Linked DNA regions of Homo sapiens. The protein of the gene in region 1 interacts with the protein of each later gene in a pairwise test. Each region holds a gene or a part of one and is shown on either strand. Other genes may lie near its edges.

Evidence for each region. Proteins that work in one complex are often made in the same cells at the same time.
Region 2: the proteins of NIF3L1 (region 1) and DCDC2 interact in binary tests that used the Homo sapiens proteins (3 or more experiments, as listed by UniProt).
Region 3: the proteins of NIF3L1 (region 1) and CDKN2B interact in binary tests that used the Homo sapiens proteins (3 or more experiments, as listed by UniProt).

What each region holds. Positions count from the first base shown.
Region 1 is NC_000002.12:200,899,337-200,904,425, forward strand, and holds the end of NIF3L1 (NIF3-like protein 1), read left to right. Parts: intron 1-48; coding exon 49-132; intron 133-4,157; coding exon 4,158-4,342; 3' UTR 4,343-4,589; downstream 4,590-5,089. UniProt on the Homo sapiens protein: May function as a transcriptional corepressor through its interaction with COPS2, negatively regulating the expression of genes involved in neuronal differentiation.
Region 2 is NC_000006.12:24,299,055-24,306,088, forward strand, and holds part of DCDC2 (doublecortin domain-containing protein 2), read right to left. Parts: intron 2,991-7,034; coding exon 2,914-2,990; intron 2,793-2,913; coding exon 2,661-2,792; intron 1-2,660. UniProt on the Homo sapiens protein: Protein that plays a role in the inhibition of canonical Wnt signaling pathway. May be involved in neuronal migration during development of the cerebral neocortex. Involved in the control of ciliogenesis and ciliary length.
Region 3 is NC_000009.12:22,006,301-22,013,306, reverse strand, and holds the start of CDKN2B (cyclin-dependent kinase 4 inhibitor B), read left to right. Parts: upstream 1-4,001; 5' UTR 4,002-4,353; coding exon 4,354-4,509; coding exon of another isoform or gene 4,510-4,590; exon of another isoform or gene 4,591-4,632; intron 4,633-7,006. UniProt on the Homo sapiens protein: Interacts strongly with CDK4 and CDK6. Potent inhibitor. Potential effector of TGF-beta induced cell cycle arrest.

The DNA.
Region 1 (5,089 bases):
TGAAAGGGAATTGTAAAGTATTGGTCTCTTGTTTCCTCTGTTTTGAAGAGTCTCAAGTCAAAGTCGTGGCCCTGTGTGCTGGTTCTGGGAGCAGCGTTCTGCAGGGTGTTGAGGCTGACCTTTACCTCACAGGTAGGACAGACTTTGGATCTCTCTTGGTTTATTTTTTGCAAAATCAAAAATGGCAAATTTTAGGACAGTACCTGGCACATAGATGATACCTAATTAATGTTTTCTGAACCTGAACTAAACAGAAACTACAACAGAACTGGGGACTTACTGCATTCTTTGTGGAGGGATGAAATCATTGAACAGTTTATTACATTATCTCAAAAGTTAATGGTCAGCATTTATTTTACCTACATTCTTCCTAAACTGTCCCAAACCTCTCAGATTTCACATCAGTGGGATACTTTCTACCCTGTCACCTTAGCTAGGAAATGGTTCCTTTTACTCAGCCTAAAGCCAATCATCAATTCCTATCAATTCAAGCTCCCAAATCTTTCTAGAATCTTCCCCCTTATCTCTATCCAGGCACCATCTCCTACTTGAAGTACAGCATCAACCCTCTAATGGTATCTTCCATATACTCTCCTGAAATTAACTTTTCAAAGTGCAAATTTGATGGTCTTGATTAAAAAGACTTCAGTGATTTCCTTCATCTGTCTGGTGGAGCCTGAACATTGCATCCCCTTTCCTGTACCCTTTGCTTATGCTGTTTTCTCTGGCTAGAATGCCTTTTCCTTGTACTCCTAGTGATAAGTGAACACCCCCTCTGAGAAGCCTTCTCTGACACTGTCCTGCTCCTGCCTCTTGTGGGTCCCTATCACTTTGTCCTTGACCTCCAATGTGCACTTCTGTTGGATAGTAATTGTCTGGCTGCTGGGCCTTATACTTTCTCATTTAGGATACTACCTAATAGGTCCTGGCTAATTTTTATTGAAAGAATTACTTTATGTAGTTACTACTCAGGAATATGGCCAAACATGGCCCCTTACACCTCCAAAGGATTTGGAGGCATTTTAAGGGGTTGCCACTTTGTTTACCTCCTCCTTCTTAGGGTTAGGAGAGAATGAGTTAAAGAATTACTTTTCCCACTTTGAGGACCAGGCTCTAGGCTCTTAGCCCTCTGGCCATTCCTTTGGCTACTTCCATGCTTCCCTTGCCTCCCACACCCACACTTTGTTATATAGCACACTCTCTTACAAAGGCTGCTGCACTCAAAGCATTGTCACATCCTGAAGTACCGAGGAGCAGCATCTGAGCAAGCCTGATGGAATTGCTCTAAACCAATAAATTGATTTAAAAAAACAAAACATGTATGTGACTATTACTTATTTTATATTTTCTGAAGATAAAAGATTTTTGTAAGCCCTTAAATTTCTACCAGATTAAAGTGAAATTTCAATATGAATATCTTACAGTATTGTGTCTGGCTATTTTAAAATTCATTTTAGCATTTTACTTAGGAATTTCAGACCTATGCAAAAGTTGCAAGAATAGTATACTGAACTCCTATATGCTCTTCACCTTGGTTACTATGGTTATATTCTGCCATATTTGTACATTCCCTATGTGCATATTATATATGTGTCTATACACATTTGTGTTTGCATGTATAGATACATAATATATACAAGTTAAAATATGTTCTATATATATATTGATGTATTTCCCCTAGGACCATTTTGTAATCAATTGCAGACATGACAATTTCTTTACCTCTCAATACTTCAGTGTATAGTCTAAGAACAAAGACATTCTAAGTCCATGGAACAATTATCAAACATGGGAATTTAATATTGTTAAAACACTTACTTGATATACAGTCCATATTCACATTTTCCCAATTGATAAAAGCTTATAGCATTTCTTTTTCTGATCCATATCCAGCCAATGATCTCACATTGCATTTAGTTGTTGTTAGTCTCCTTCAGTCTGGAATAGTTTCTCAGCTTTGTCTCCATAGCATTGACATTTTTAAAGAGTATAGGCTCTTTGTTTTGTGCTTCTCTCTCAATTTGGGGTATCTGTTTCCTTATACTTTTTTAAAAACTAGTTTTTTAAAACAATGATAAAGTATAATGATACGTGCATAAGATAAATTCAAGCAGTTCCAAAATGTTAAAATGTCCTTCCTATCTGGCTGTGGGGAGAAATAGAAAATATATTATCCGGCTAGCATTAGCTGTCTCTGGTCTGTGAGGCATCACTTTTGAGTATAACTTCAGAGATGTGAAGCCCCACCTAAAGGACCTCTGCTGAACTTCATCACGCTTCCTGTGAGCCTGAGGCCGTGTTCTCATTGTATTAGGTTGTTAAGGGTAATACCCCGTAAGACCAGCAGATGGGGAGCCTGCTCCTTGTAAATTAAGTTCTCCCATTTGTCTTTTCATTCTCCATTTGCTTATTCTTTCCCAAGCTGCCATCCTGGGCCAAGCTTTTCTTTCCATTGGCTTCAGCTATTATTGCAGGGTCTTCACTGATTTCCCCCCTTTCATGCCTTCTCCAGCCAATGAATTTGTCACAGTACAGGCAGCCAGACTTACCTTTCCTAAAACAAGGCTTCCAACTGGGCCATCTTAGTGTCTTTTTCTTGCTTTTTACTTCTACTATTATAGATTAAGATGTTTTAAAAGGTGCTTGAATAAAAACTGTTCCTTATAATGAGATGACACTTATTAGGAGGAGATTGTGGGGAACTAAAAAATTCTGGAATTAAGAAAACTCATTTTTTTACTTATAGGTGTTTTCTTATGGGAAAATTAAAAGAGAACTCATTTTTTTCCAAGAACCCTTTTTTCTTAAATTTATATGCCCTTCTGTCTCTAAATACAGTTCAAAATTGTACTTTTTAAAGAACAAACCTAATTGTACACAGTACAGTTTTGCTCTTAAATTAGAAGTCATCAAATTCACAAACTGCATTTTAAGAAATTCAGAATATTAGGCTGGACATGGTGGCTCACGCCTGTAATCCCAGCACTTTGGGAGGCTGAGGCGGGCAGATCACTTGAGCCCAGCAGTTCGAGACCAGCCTGGCCAACGTGGTGAAACCCCATCTCTACTAAAAATACAAAAATTAGCCAGGCATGGTGGTGGGTGCCTGTCATTCCAGCTACTCGAGAGGCTGAGGCAGGAGAATCACTTGAACCCAGGAGGCAGAGGTTGCAGTGAGCTGAGATCGTGCTACTGTACTCCAGCCTGGGTGACAGAGCAAAACTCCATCTAAAAAAAAATTAACAATATAAATTAAAAATTCAGAATATGAATTTTCCCCAAATCTTTTCACAACAGATGAGATTCCCTCCAGAGTTTCTAGGGATTTTGCTTAAGTCAAAGAAAAATACTTTGTTTTTAACCTGGAAGTAATCTTAAATTCATTTCATCCTTATATATTAGACTAAGTTGACGACAGAAATACTGGTGCTTACAAAGCATAAGTCTGCTGGGCAGTATACATATAATTTCCTCCAGAGGTATTTATTACTTACATAAGAGGCAAATTTTCTGAAGGCCTCATTTTACTTGGCAGTGATCATTCATTTTACCGTGGAAACACTTTGAATGGGTGTTTACAGATCTGGTTCTGGCCAGATATGTTGGATTGGATAATTGCCTTGGGGTCTGCTAAGGAAAAAGAAGTTGGAATTCTCAGTGGGATGGATTTTATTTTTATATTTTCAAGATAGTCTTACTCTGTCACCCAGGCTGAAGTGCAGTGGTGCAGTCTCGGCTCACTGCAACCTCCAGGCCCTGGACTGAAGCTATTCACCTGTCTCAGCCTCCTGAGTAGCTGGGATTACAGGCACGCACCACCACGCCCAGCTAATTTTTGTGTTTTTAGTAGAGATGGAAGTTTCACCATGTTGGCCAGGCTAGTCTAGCACTCCTTAGCTCAGGTGATCTGCCTGCCTAGGCCTCCCAAAGTGCTGGGATTACAGGCGTGAGCCACCGCGCCCAGACTTTTCTCTCTTTTTAAGTTGGAGGACATAAAAGAAAACTGTACACTACTTTCTAGATTTATATGTAAAACAGTTCTGCTCTATTACATTCACTTCATATAGACTACAAACTTGGTATTTCTGCTTTTGTGTTTCCTCATTCCACAGATTCCATATTTAGCATTTAAGAATTTGCTCTTCCCTTTTTGGTAGGTGAGATGTCCCATCATGATACTTTGGATGCTGCTTCCCAAGGAATAAATGTCATCCTCTGTGAACACAGCAACACTGAACGAGGCTTTCTTTCTGACCTTCGAGATATGCTGGATTCTCACTTGGAGAATAAGATAAATATTATCCTATCAGAGACTGACAGGGACCCTCTTCAGGTGGTATAATTGCAGAAACATCAGGATAACACATTCTACAAATCAGCTGGATGCCAACTTAAATTTGTAACATGAGTCAGTGGGACTGGTGTGCTTCCAGAGAGTGTCTTCGAGGGTATCATCATTTCCGGTTTGTTAATCTTATTCACCAAATGTTCTATCGCTCGTAAGGTAAAACTGTAATATAACTACCATATTAAATAACAAATGTTCATTATAAACTCTAGGAAAGATTGAATAAAATCTGTTTACTTAACATTCTTTGGAAGGAGCTCAAGTGATTCTGTCCTTAGTTTAATTGTAGATGGGATGGATCCATTTGGGTATCTCTGCCCTTGGTTAGTTAACATTATGCTTGAAAAACTTGGGCTTGAACACTTCTAGGTAGTAGCCTTTTTGCAGTGATAAGAAGTTCTGTTTGTCCTTGTTCCTAGTTCTGCCTACATTCCAGTCTCTCACCTAAATTTCAGAATCAGAATGAGATTTATCAGGATGTTGTTTTGAAAATATGTATACACAATCATTATTCATATTACTGTTACTTTATTGCTTTTTAGATGACTTACCTGTAATTTTTTTTTCTTCCACAGTCCTTTGTTCCCGATTTCTGCTCTGTCACTTCCCTCTCCTGGCAATGAACTTGGCTGCCGCAGGCAGGGGGCAGGGCCAGGGAATGAAATTCCAGAGCAGAAAGAACAAAGTCAGATATCTCAAAATATCATCCTGCCCCATTTAATCTGGGCCTTTTATCCATGT
Region 2 (7,034 bases), on another chromosome or scaffold:
TATTCACAATAGCAAAGATGTGGAATCAGTCTAGGTGCTCCATCAATGGTGGGCTGGATAAAGAAAATATGGTGTATATACACCATGGAATACTACGCAGCCAGGAAAATACTGAAATCCTGTCCTTTGCAGCAATATGGATGCAGCTGGAGGCCATAATCCTAAGCAAATTAATGCAGGAACAGAAAACCAAATACTACTTATTCTCACTAGTAAGTGGGAGCTTAAATATTGGGTACAGATGGACATAAAAATAGGAACAGTAGATACTGTTGACTGCTAGAGAGGGGAGGGAAATAGAGTGAAAAACTACTTATTGGGTACTATGCTCACTTCCTGGGTGACAACATCTGTACCCGAAATCTCAGCATCATGCAATATACCCATGTAACAAACCTGCAAATGTATTCCCTGAACCTAAAATAAACAAATGAAATTATAAAAAAGAGGTAACTGGTCTAAAAAATTAAGTTGGGAACACTCATTCTATTTTATAAAATGAGATGTTGCCCAACTAAAAATTTCTTAATGAAAAAATTAGGATTTGGAATACTTTGTGTTAAAATAGAATACTTTGGGCCAGTCGCAGTGGCTCACACCTGTAATCCTAGCACTTTGGGAGGCCAAGGCGGGTGGATTGCTTGAGGTCAGGAGTTTGAAACTAGCCTGGCCAACATGGTGAAACCCAGTTTCTACGAAAAAAAATTTTTTTTAATTAGATGGGCATGGTGGCAGGCGCCTGTAATCCCAGCTGTTTGAGAGGCTGAGGCAGGAGAATCACTTGAACCCAGGAGGTGGAGGTTGCAGTGAGCCAAGATCCCACCATTGCACTCCAGTCTGGGCAACAAGAGTGAAACTCCATCTCAAAAAAAAATAAAAATAAAAATAAATAAAATACTTTGTAGTCATTAAAAATAATAAAATAGAGGTATCTGTGCTGATAAGAATAATCTCTAAGATTTATTATAGGAAAAAATCAAGGGGGTGTTTGTATACATGTATTTATTTATTTATACATATGTATGCATTTCCATTTAATGTTTTTAAAAAGTGGTCCAGGTACAGTGGCTCACACCTGTAATCCCAGCACTTTGGGAGGCCAAGGCGGGCGGATTGCTTGACCCCAGGAGTTCAAGACCAGCTTGGGCAACATGACAAAATCTAATCTCTACAAAAAAGAAAAAAAAAACAAAAGCTAGACGTTGTGGTGCATGCTACTTGGGAGGTTGAGGTAAGAGTATCAATTGAGTCTGCACAATCGAGGCTGCAGTGAGCTGAGATCACACCATTGCACTCCAGCCTGGGTGACACAGCGAGACCCTGTCTCAAAAAAATGAAATTAAAAATTAAAAATGTATATGCTTGCACATGCATAGAATATTTCCGGGATGATGCTGAAAAGTACTAGGGAGAAGGACTGGACATGCCTAAGATAGGAGAAATGCTCTTTACTTATATCGTATTTGAATTTTTTGCCACATGTAAAGTATTCCTTTCAATTAAAACACCTAATTATATTTAAAATCTCAATGACTATGAGACTGTGGATATTAATATGTGTAAATATACAAACATTAATCTGCATACACATTTACCTGAAAGACGTAATATGCAATCATTTGAGAACTATTTTATCACGTGTGTATGAAAACACAAACACTTGAAACAGTGTACTCTGCTAAAGCAGTATATACATATACATACTTTTAATATGTTGTGCACATGTATATGTTATTTGTAACCCTCCCATCTGACGGAAAATAAATGTCAGCCTCCATCAAGGGATAATTTCATAGGCTTCACAATTTAAATCTATGATGTTAATCTTCACTTAAATGTTGGAACCTGAAAAAAATGCTTTTGACTTCTTACATTTAGACAACCCCACTAAATTATTCTTTCTATGCCTCCTCTTTAAATGCACTAATACTTCCTGATATCTGATTTTTACCCTAGGCAAATAGTTTAAACTATCAAATAATCATAAATGACCCCTTTAAAAAAAAAAAACGGACAATTAAGAGTTAAGAGGCTGGGCCGGGCTTGGTGGCTCAAGCCTGTAATCCCAGGACTTTGGGAGGCCAAGGCGGGCGGATCACGAGGTCAGGAGATCGAGCCCATCCTGGCTAACATGGAGAAACCCCGTCTCTACTAAAAATACAAAAAATTAGCCGGGCGTGGTGGTGGGCGCCTGTGGTCCCAGCTACTCGGGAGGCTGAGGCAGGAGAATGGCGTGAACCCGGGAGGCGGAGCTTGCAGTGAGCTGAGATCGTGCCACTGCACACCAGCCTGGGCGACAGAGCAAGGCTCCATCTCAAAAAAAAAAAAAAAAAAAAAAAGTTAAGGGGCTGGCTCTTTCAAAAAATCCTTCTCAACTAAAGTTATGTTTGCCTAGTCACTCTAAATCAAAGAATAAAAATCGTTAATATTTGTAGATGTGCTACTATGTGCCAATGACTGTTTTAAGCTCTGTATGTGGATTACCTCATTTTAAACAACGCTATGAGGTATATCTCCATTCTACAGATAAAGAAACTGAGGCATACGGGGCCTAACTGGGGAGCCAAAATTCAAATCCACAGACCAGTGACTCCGGAGCCTCCTGAGAATATCTTCAACAATTCAAAAACTCCTCCACTTACAAGATTGTTTTGACATACCTGTGAACAGCCCCGCTCCTCAGAGTGATTTTTTCTGTGACCATTTGTAGTACATGATCCCACTGATTCAAGGTTTTTCTGGGGATAAGGAGGCGAGAAGCTGGGTTTATGAGGTCTCCATTTGCAATCAAGCTGGAAAACAGGGGGCAAACCTTCTGAAACAGTTATGCCTTGAAAACTACAACACAAATTCCAAACCAAAAGGAAACCACCAAGCCAATTTTAACTTGAAGTATAAAGGGTTTCAACTTACAAGATAGTGCACGGCTCCTGAAGCGGTTTTCTAAAGCGAGCTGACACGTTGATCCTGCTATGGATTACTGGTTTTACCTTTAAAAGCAAAGGAAAAAAAATATAAACCACTAAGCTTATATTAGCTTTTTTTTTCCTATGAGGAAAATCTACAGTTTCTAGGGAACTGCCTGAGACTTCCTGTGCCTTTGTTAAAACCTTGCTTTTCTCAGCATTTCTGTAAACTCTGAGCTCACCCTTTAGCAATATTATAAGCCCTTAACAAAGCTCTCAAGAAAAGAAAGGAAAATTTCCCTTAAGCCCTAGGCACACTGCTCATGATCTGTGGAAAAAAAAAAAAAACAGAAATCATTTTCTGTTACGAAAATATTAAGATAATTTTTAAACAATGCATTCTGAAAAACAACAAAATAATCCTATAAAATCTTGAGCTCTGAAGTGCTGTGCCTGCAGCCCAACATACTGTGTTCCATCATCTTTCCTTTCCCATTCCCATGCACCTGCTTTCTGATCCTTGGCCCCCACCAAGTGCCTGACCCCACCCTTTTCTCTTAAGACTGACACAAGCAATTTTTCCCAGGTTTCACTTTCTCCCCTATCCCCCATTGAATCAGGTACACTCACGCCAGCACCCTCAATTCCCGCAGCCCTTGCCACTGGGTAGATGTGATCACCTTTGCCTCTCTTTTTGCTTCCAGGGTCCCAGCTGCTATTAGAGAGAACCACGGGGCCCCATGAGCAGCCCTCACCTGAGACCAGCTTTCAGCATCAAGCCATCACCTGGACCTCAGTATAGCTTGCTCAGCCAGCCCTCCACTCCTCCCACAGTTCTTTTTTCCATTTCCCACAGTGGATAGTCCAAATCCTCACCTCTCATCTCACCTCACCCCTCACCTAACCCTTAAAATCCCACTCCAGGCACACACACTCTCAGCAGGTCATTTCATTCCAAATGTCAAGAAATAGAAGCCAGTAGACACGAAGCCCCTCAACTTTCCTTCCCTCCACAACTCACCTCATCTAGATCCTCACCATTTTTCTCCTTTTCTGCCTGTCTCAGAAGGAACTATATGCCTTTAGGAAGCTAACCCCACATCTTGATTTTGTCCCCGGCTGTCTCTGCTTGTTCATTCATTTAAGACCTCCATCTCTACCTGGTGCCTTTAATTTTCCCCTTGACCTTATGGCCGCTCTCAAGTACAGCTGCCATCTCTCTCTTCATTATTCCTATTCCGACTTCCTCCCTATCCTCTCTTCAGGCTTCTGCCGTCTGGTGTCCACCTTTAATACTGGAAGATAAATCCCGACTTTCAAGCATGGCCTGCAAGAACTCCCAGGGCCAAGTGCCGCTTACTTGGTGCCCTCATCTCCTACCAACACTCCTTCCACACAGACTCCTCGTCACGCACTGTAGTTGAACCAGCCTGCTCCCCTCCATTCCCAAAACATCCCCTGCATCCACACCTTGCCTTTGCCCCTCTGGCTAAAACGCCCTCCTCATTTCTCCACCTACTGGAATTCCATCTGCTCTTCAAGGCCCAGCTCAGTTATCACCAATCATTCCCTGCTCATTCTTCTTGCGCTTTCTGTCTCAAACTGCTACAGCTACTATAGTATTGATTCTTGCACTTTGAGTTTTAGGTGATTTTACCCCATGATTTGAAAGGAAAACTTACAAACAACACTAATTTATAAAAATAGGTAACAGTTGTGCTATATTTCATGGCAAGCACCGTACTAAGTAATTTATATGCATTATATATTTTCTAATCATCAAAACAGTGTCCTGAAGTGGCATTACTATAGTCCCAATTTACTAAAGAAACTGGAGCTTGATTAATTAATTGGCCTAAAATCACACATAATAAGTGGTAGAGTTTTAGTGAACCTATGTCTATGAGCCCCTACTATTTGCTACGCACTTTGCTAGTTATCTTAAAAATCAAATAGTAGCCCTAGATCATTTATGGGACTCCATTCTTGGTAGAATTATGCCATCTCTGAGAGAAACAAGAATGAATATTTTTTCTGTGACTCTCAAGTGCCTAAAACAGTGCTTGGCAATGCCTACGAGTTGCACAATAAATGTTTGTTAAAATGTCATACTCTAGAGTACAATTTTTAAAATTTAATCATAGTAACTTTTTTTCATTTTAAGCACACAGGTTCTTAGCCCTACACTAACACCTAGCATCACATTAAGTGACGCTGACTTTTTAAAAAATGTTTAACAGGGCTGGGTGTGTTGGCTCACGCCTGTAATCCCAACACTTTGGGAGGCTGAGGCAGGTGGATCTCCTAAGGTCAGGAGTTGGAGACCAGCCTGGCCAACATGGTGAAACCCTATCTCTACTGAAAATACAAAACTTAGCTGAGTGTGGTGGTGTGCACCTGTAGTTCCAGCTACTCAGGAGGCTGAAGCATGAGAATTGCTTGAAACCGGGAGGCAGAGGTTGCAATGATCTGAGATGGCACCATTGCACTCCAGCCTGGGCAACAAAGCGAGACTCTGTCTCAAAAGAAAAAATAAAATAAAATGTTTAGCAGGTAATGCACGCACCTGAACAAAATTCAAGTGGTTAAAGGGGGTGTACAGTAAAAAAGAAGTGTCCTTCCCACTCCTATGCCCTAATCACCAAGCTGCAACCAGAGTTAGAAATATTCCTTCAAAGATAGTCTGTACATACACATGCATATTATCTTATGTACATAGCACATACATACAATTTTTAAATGCGCTGATGGCCTGCTTTACCAATTCTTCAGCACCTTGCTTTTTTAATTTAATAATTTATCATGGAGATTGTTTCAAATGGGTACTTACAAGTGAGGGTTATATCATTTTTTTTCCCTTTTAGAGACAGGGTGTTGCTCTGTCACCCAGGCTAGAGTACAGTGGTGCGATCACAGCTCACTGTAACCTCAAATTCCTGGGCTTAAGCATTCCTCCTTAGTGCCTTAGCTAGCAATGCACTAAGCACATACAGAGGATGCTCTGCTGTTATCTCTTCAATATGTGACTCTCTAACCATACCCATTCTTGATGGTTTAAAATCTTGTTGGGTTATTGAATTAAAGGCAAAAGTTAATATGTTATATCAATAAGTAACTTTAAAAATCTTGTTGCATTGTCTAAAACATGCTGTTTTGCTTTAGAGCACAGATAGCTATAAACAATATATTGAAATTCATAAAAATACATGATTGTTGAAATAATTATGTAATTTGATTCTGAGTATGTAAATTATTACTTGAATTCAATCAAACCATCTGTTTTAAATAATAATTGTTTTCCTCATTCGGCATGGCAAAAGTGTTCCCCAAATGTTCATGATTAACCAGTTGAATTGAAAACTAATCTTAAAGTTATATTTCCTTGAGTTACATAATTAAAATAACTAAATTACTGTTTTCAGATACACTAAAAATCTGAAAAACTACTCAAAGTAGTATACCTGAATTGTAAAAGAAACAAAAAGATAATTATAAAAAATGATTCATACTTTTTAAAAACAATACCAGTTTTTATATAAAATGCATTTTTAGCAGGCATTTTAAGTAATAAACAACACACAAAAAAATTAAACCAAATCAACTGGGTATAAGAGGAACTTCTCCAGAGCCCTAATCGGGGATAAAGGGTTGGTCAGTTGGTGGTACTCTAGGGACATGATGGCTTTAGATGATGGGGAACATAATGATAAATTAGAATTTTTAAATCAATTTTCTTATTAGCCCATACACTTCCCCTTGCACTGTAAACATAAATGCCACTTCAGGCCAGGTGCAGTGGCTTACACCTATAATCCCAGCACTTTGGGAGGCCAAGGGGGGGTGGATCACCTGAGGTCAGGAGTTCGAGACCAGCCATGGCCAACATGGTGAAACCCCATCTCTACTAAAAATACAAAAATTATCTGGGCGTGGTGGTATGCACCTGTAATTCCAACTACTTGGAAGCTGAGGGATGAGAATCACTTGAACCCAGAAGGCAGTGGTTGCAGTGAGCCAAGATTGCACCACTGCACTTCAGCCTGGGCAACAAGAGCAAAACTCTGTCTCAAAAAAAAAAGAAAGGAAAGAAAAGAAATGCTACTTGAAATATGAGGGTAATATTAAGTA
Region 3 (7,006 bases), on another chromosome or scaffold:
TTGTTATGGGTTAAATTCTGTCACCTCTAAATTTTTATATTAAAGTCCTAAGCCCAATACCTCACAATTTGACCGTATTTGGAAATAGAGCCCTTAAAGAAGTGACTAAGTTAAAATAAGGCCATTGGGGTGGGCCCTAATCCAATCTGACTGGTGTCCTCAAAAGAGGAGGAAATTTGGACACACACAAGAGATCCAGGGGCACGTGTGCACAGAGGGATGACTATGTGAAGAGGCAGCAGTAGGATGGCCATGTGCAAGTCAAGAAGAGAAGCCTCAGGAGAAGTTAAAACTCTGAGAAAATAAATATTTGTTGTTTAAGCTACTCAGTCTGTGGTATTCTGTTATGGCAGCCCTAGCAAACTAATACGGATACTAAAATGATGAACAAGTCCACCATTTAATTAATCTTGAAAAATACATGGGAATATAGAAGTGGATATACTGTGGATCACGGAGCAATAAACCCAACTCATAAAATGGAGAAAATCAAACCTCTTGGTGGGAAGGTGTGTTCATAAAAAATTTGAAAAAGCCCCAAAAGTGATTATGAATTTCCTTCTCTTCTCACTTATAAACACTATCTTAGTCCTAATCATATGCAAAAGTGTGCATAAATGAGGGCAAGGTTAGGTCGCTGTTTCTCTTGGCCAGTCAACCAGTTCTATTCATACTTTTTTTTTTTCCAGTCAATGAAAGGGACACTTTATTGAGGCTCCAGGGCCATGGGGCCTGGGCAGGAGGCTGCCCTCCGAGGAAGGAAGAGCCTTATTTGACCTTCTTGGGGTGCAGGTTGTTGGTGTGGCCACACTTCTTCTTGCGGCAATTGACAGCATAGGGGTGCAGGAGAGCATAGCGCTTATGGCAGATCATCTTGTTTCAGCTGTATTTCTAGGTGAGCTGGAAGAGTGAAGGCTCAATAATGCCACCTCGCAGGTGCAGCACCAGGTGCGGGGTGGGCTGTTTCTGGACGTTGTAGTCTGAGAGAGTGCGGCCATCCTCCAGCTGTTTGCTGGCAAATATCAGACGCTGCTTGTCAGGGGGGATACCCTCCTTGTCTTGAATTTTCGCACTGACATTCTCAATGGTGTCACTGGGCTCGACCTCAAGGGTGATGGTCTTGCCCGTGAGGGTCTTCACAAAGATCTGCATCTCTGTGTCTGCAGCTCGGCTGCCTCGCTGAAGAAAAAGAGGATGGCAGATCTGTTCATACTTCTATATCAAGGTCATATACAGACAATTTCACCAACTAGAATATAAAAATATTATTACTAGTGATCTGAGTTATGTGCAACATTGGAATGGATGCCACTCATTCCCTTCTACTGACCTCCAAAATTCTATGCCAATTTACCATTAACTTTCTCTTTCTTTCTTCTCAATTATAAATTCTCCACCTTATTAAAAGACATGGCTCTGACAATTCCAAGTTTCAGCTGCCCACTATGTTCCCATCCACTTCATCTTTTAAATGTGTTTAAAGCATTAACAACAGATTGTGTTTCACCCTAGAGACAGCTGGGTTTCAAGGAGAGGTAAAATGTTTCATAATCTCACTCTATTGTCCAAGACAAATGTGCTATTGTATTACATGTGAAATGTCATCTTTGAAGTCTGGTAAGGGTGTGCTGTGAGGTGAGCCATCTGGAAAACACAGTGTAGACTGAAAAATAATTATAAGCCAGTTTATTACTTTTTTCCAGTTAAGCCTACCATGACAGCTGCTAAAAAAAACACTATGTAGTATAAAGGGTAAAAAGACTCTGAAGTCGCAAAAGTTATACCCACCTCCAACAATGATTAGCTAGTATACAAGTCACTCAAATTCTCTGATCCTTTTGGCTTGTCTGTAAAATTGAAATATGGACACATGCCACAGAGGAGTTTTATGAGTATTAAATGAAACAACAGCTGTAAAGCACTTCGTACAGAGTACACAATAAGTTTGATTTCTCTTCTCGTCTTCTAAATATAGACTATATAATATTCTTTATACAGAGAATATTAGATAAAATCCAATCATATTTGAAAACCAGGTTGAGCAGGTTGGTTTTTCAAAGAAATTCATTGAGCTTCCATAATGTCCTTTCTATTTGACGGGAGAAAAGGGGCTTTGGAAGATCAAGTGTGAAGCTTTAGAATTCTGTCTGGAGCTGGTTAGGACCACCCAGGCCTGAGTATAAGCAAAGCGCTGTCCGTGGTGCTAGTAAGCGCGAATGCCCCCGGCAACGTTTTCCCTACCCAAAGTTGTTTTTCATTCAGTCAACTTGCTTCGCGAAGCTCACACATCTGCCTCGTGCAAGATTCTCAGTCATTTTACTTAGTCATTGGTTCTTTCCCTATCACCATTCTTTATGTCCCCCTCAAAGAAAAACATTATCTTCCATTTCCTTATCAACTCCAAACAGCTTTCATTTTTCTGACATATTTACTACCTAAGAAAATGGCTCAAGAATTGGGTCAGACTATCTTGTCCTAACTTTTCTGATAAGTTTCAGAGAAACTCAAAGGTCAAAACAAGAGCATAAGAGTAAAAGGTAGAGAAATTAAGAAACTGAAGACTAGGAAATGGGGGTTGGATGGGAAAGAAAAAGAAATTGTTATTAATGCTACCCGGTTCCCTTCCCTGTCCAGGTGGATTTCAGCTCTGTTGAGGCTCTGTCAGTAGATTTTCAGCCCTAACCAGCACTTCCATGGTGGTGGCACTTCCACTGCCTTTAAAAGAAAGAGCTTTTTTTAATTCTACAGGGATTTGGGGGATGAGGAGTCAGAGCTAAGGTATCCTAAAAAAAACATGTGAAGACTCTCATTTTGCAATACACAAGCAATTGCCCTCCTGTTAAGACTTTGTCTTCCTCAGCACTCCGAACCAAAATGATTCTGTAAACAAAAATTGTTCACTTTTAGGAGAGGTCCACTTATGCAGTTCCTCACCAAAGTTTTTAGGCAACAAATCCATAACTTGCGGTTCTCTTCCTATCCAATGTAGCATCCGCTGAAATGTTTTAAATATTTTAAGTAATAAATGTTGATTCAAACTCACCTAGGAAGATTAGGAAGGGGAAAAAAAGCACTTGGCATTTAAATCTTCAGAAGAGAATTTAATGACAGGTTCAGCCTGTTTAATGACAAGCCCAGCACCACACCCCTCTCTTATGATGTTTCATTATTACTGCATAAATTTCCTTTATTACTCATGATAAATAAAAATAAGATACCTGACAAAGTGGGTTTAAATAGGTAAGAGTGCAAACAAAGATTTACTGTACAAATATGATGAAACTGGGATCTCAGATTCTTAAAGTATAATTTTTTTTTGTCTTATGTGTGCCAGGTTGCCACTCTCAATCTCGAACTAGTTTTTTTCTCTTTTAAGGGTTGTATCCATAATGCAAAAATGGAAAGAATTAAAAAGCACACGCAAAACATGATTCTCGGGATTTTTCTCTATTTTTATGGTTGACTAATTCAAACAGAAAGACACATCCAAGAGAAAATTGCTAAGTTTGATACAAGTTATGAAACTTGTGAAGCCCAAGTACTGCCTGGGGATGAATTTAACTTGTATGACAGGTGCAGAGCTGTCGCTTTCAGACATCTTAAGAAACACGGAGTTATTTTGAATGACTTTCTCTCGGTCACAAGGGAGCCACCAACGTCTCCACAGTGAAACCAACTGGCTGGCTGAAGGAACAGAAATCCTCTGCTCCGCCTACTGGGGATTAGGAGCTGAGGGCAGTGGTGAACATTCCCAAAATATTAGCCTTGGCTTTACTGGACATCCAGCGAGCAGTGCAGCCAGCATTCCTGGCGGCTCCCTGGCCCAGTCTCTGGCGCATGCGTCCTAGCATCTTTGGGCAGGCTTCCCCGCCCTCGTGACGCGTCGGCCCGGGCCTGGCCTCCCGGCGATCACAGCGGACAGGGGGCGGAGCCTAAGGGGGTGGGGAGACGCCGGCCCCTTGGCCCAGCTGAAAACGGAATTCTTTGCCGGCTGGCTCCCCACTCTGCCAGAGCGAGGCGGGGCAGTGAGGACTCCGCGACGCGTCCGCACCCTGCGGCCAGAGCGGCTTTGAGCTCGGCTGCGTCCGCGCTAGGCGCTTTTTCCCAGAAGCAATCCAGGCGCGCCCGCTGGTTCTTGAGCGCCAGGAAAAGCCCGGAGCTAACGACCGGCCGCTCGGCCACTGCACGGGGCCCCAAGCCGCAGAAGGACGACGGGAGGGTAATGAAGCTGAGCCCAGGTCTCCTAGGAAGGAGAGAGTGCGCCGGAGCAGCGTGGGAAAGAAGGGAAGAGTGTCGTTAAGTTTACGGCCAACGGTGGATTATCCGGGCCGCTGCGCGTCTGGGGGCTGCGGAATGCGCGAGGAGAACAAGGGCATGCCCAGTGGGGGCGGCAGCGATGAGGGTCTGGCCAGCGCCGCGGCGCGGGGACTAGTGGAGAAGGTGCGACAGCTCCTGGAAGCCGGCGCGGATCCCAACGGAGTCAACCGTTTCGGGAGGCGCGCGATCCAGGTAGCTGGGGCCCCAGGGCCTCGCCGGCAGGGGGCGCGCGAACGCGGGGCGCGGCCTCGGCGGATCGGGGCTGGAACCTAGATCGCCGATGTAGATTTGTACAGGAGTCTCCGTTGGCCGGAGGTGTGCATTCCACGCGTAAAACAGGCTTTTACCCAGCAAAAATCCTAAAGAGAGACATTGAAAAACCCACTGTTTAAGCTTTTTTTAGTGGTTTTTGTTCTGCCATCTCATGATCAGAGATGCAAGGAATAGACTGAATTGGGGAGAAAAGGAGAAAAGGAAAGCTTATTTAGGGAAGAAGATTATCTTGTCTGTCTGCTTTCAACGATAAAGATAAGTAAAGTATAAGTTACGCATTCTAGATTGGATTTAAGGAATTCTACAAAATCATAGTACATGGAAAAAATCAATGTAAACTTCTAAGCTACTATATGAAATCTGTTGTATTGTTTTCTCATAGAGGTTAATTGAGAATGAGACGGGATTCCTCAACCACAGTACTTAGTTCCTTTTATGTTAGCAGTGTCTTATGAGTGATGCATAAGAGAAAAAATATATAGTTCTATAGGTTTCTCATTCTTTAATTATCATACTCAGTGCCCAGATTACAAAAATATTCCTGCAGCAACTGTTAGGTCCTTTTTGAATGGCAAAGGATCTTCATAAATAATGCATCTTTATCTTCATTGTTAAAATACACTTATTCAATGTTTAAGTACGAATCCTGCTTTAATTAGTACTGATATTTTTTATTTCTTTTACAATCTCGGACAACTCTTTTGTACTTTACCGTTGGCTAGTGGTCATATTCAGTACTCACCTCACTATCACCCTCTAAAACTAAGCTAATATTAAGGGATCTTGTTAATAGTATAGATTTTAAAGAAGTGTTCATTTCTTTTGAATTCTTAGAATAATGGTATAACAAATGAGGGATTTTTAAAGGAGCAAAAATATTGTAAAGTGCATCTTAAAAACTTAAAATTTTATTAATAATTATAAAAACAAGTTATATATGTAATTCACCATTTTCTGAAATACTAACAGCAGCTATTTTCCCCTTTTTTTCTATGTAAAATATCCTTACATCACTAGTAGATATAACTTATCACGGTTTTTAAGAGATGAAATGAACATTTCTAATATTAATGAAACAAGCCAACAAAACATGAGAAGTATACTGCCTTTCAATTAAATGGTATATTTTAAAGTGCATAAACCCATAACAAATAACTCGATTTTAGACATTTAGTTACCAAAAATTGTCTTATAATTGACTTTAAATATGACAGCAAATGTTTTCATAATGTTCATGTACACAAATGGCTGCTACAGGATTACTCCTGCAAAACATCATTTTTTCTAAGTTATGCATCATCCTGATTGACTGCTAACATCCAAGCTCTATTTATTTATTTATTTATTTTATTTTTTTTGAGATGAGGCCTCACTCTGTCGGACAGGCTGGAGTGCAGTGGCACAATCTCAGCTCACTGCAACCTCTTCCAGGATGCAAGCGATTCTCCTGCCTCAGCCTCCTGAGTTGCTGGGACTACAGGCACGCCCCACCATGCCCAGCTAATTTTTTATTTTTTGTAGTAGAGACGGGATTTCACCATGTTGGCCAGGCTGGTCTCGAACTCCTGACCTCAGGTGATCTGCCTGCTATGGCCTCCCAAAGTGCTGGGATTACAGGCATAAGCCACTGGGCCTGGCCCAAGCTCTTTTTATATAGCAAAATATTTACTGTTTAACATTTTTAAATCTTAGCTATTATAAAATCCTGTAGTATACAAATATAGTTAGTTTTATATTACATTAAAAATATTATAGTCTAAATTTAAAATGATGAACTGTTAAGGAAAAATCATTTATTATAATTTTATAAGATTTTGCATGATTTAATTTACTTTTCCCTTCTAATCTCCAACTTTGGCTCAAATTATCACACTACAAGCCAGTTATGAGCTCAGACACATGACAAACAAAAGCCTTCCGCACGGGATTTGCTATGAGAACTAAATAAATTAAAAAAAAAAGAAAGAAAAAAACTTAGTTGTTTATTTTCTCCCCTAAACCATTACTCCCAACTTCTAACAAACAGTAGTTGACTACCTAATAAATATTTGTAGACCTGGATTATGGAGGAGGGGTCAGCAAGGCAAATAATTTAAAACTTTAAAAGCCGAATAAATTTAACTCTGCCCCTAAATCATTTAACAAAATAGATTCCCATGTTCCAATGGAAATCAAGATTTGTTTTTCCATAATGATGATCATCACTTTACCATCAACTTTCTTGTCTCTGCACGTTTAGAGAATAAAATGGCATTTAATTTGTACTGAGTATAACCTGAAGGTGGGGTGGGAAAGTGGATTGCATCAGCAAATGAAGAAACACCAGACATCAGAGACCTGAACACCTCTGCACTGGGTGAAAACTTTGCAATTAGGTGTTTCTTTAAATGGCTCCACCTGCCTTGCCCCGGCCGGC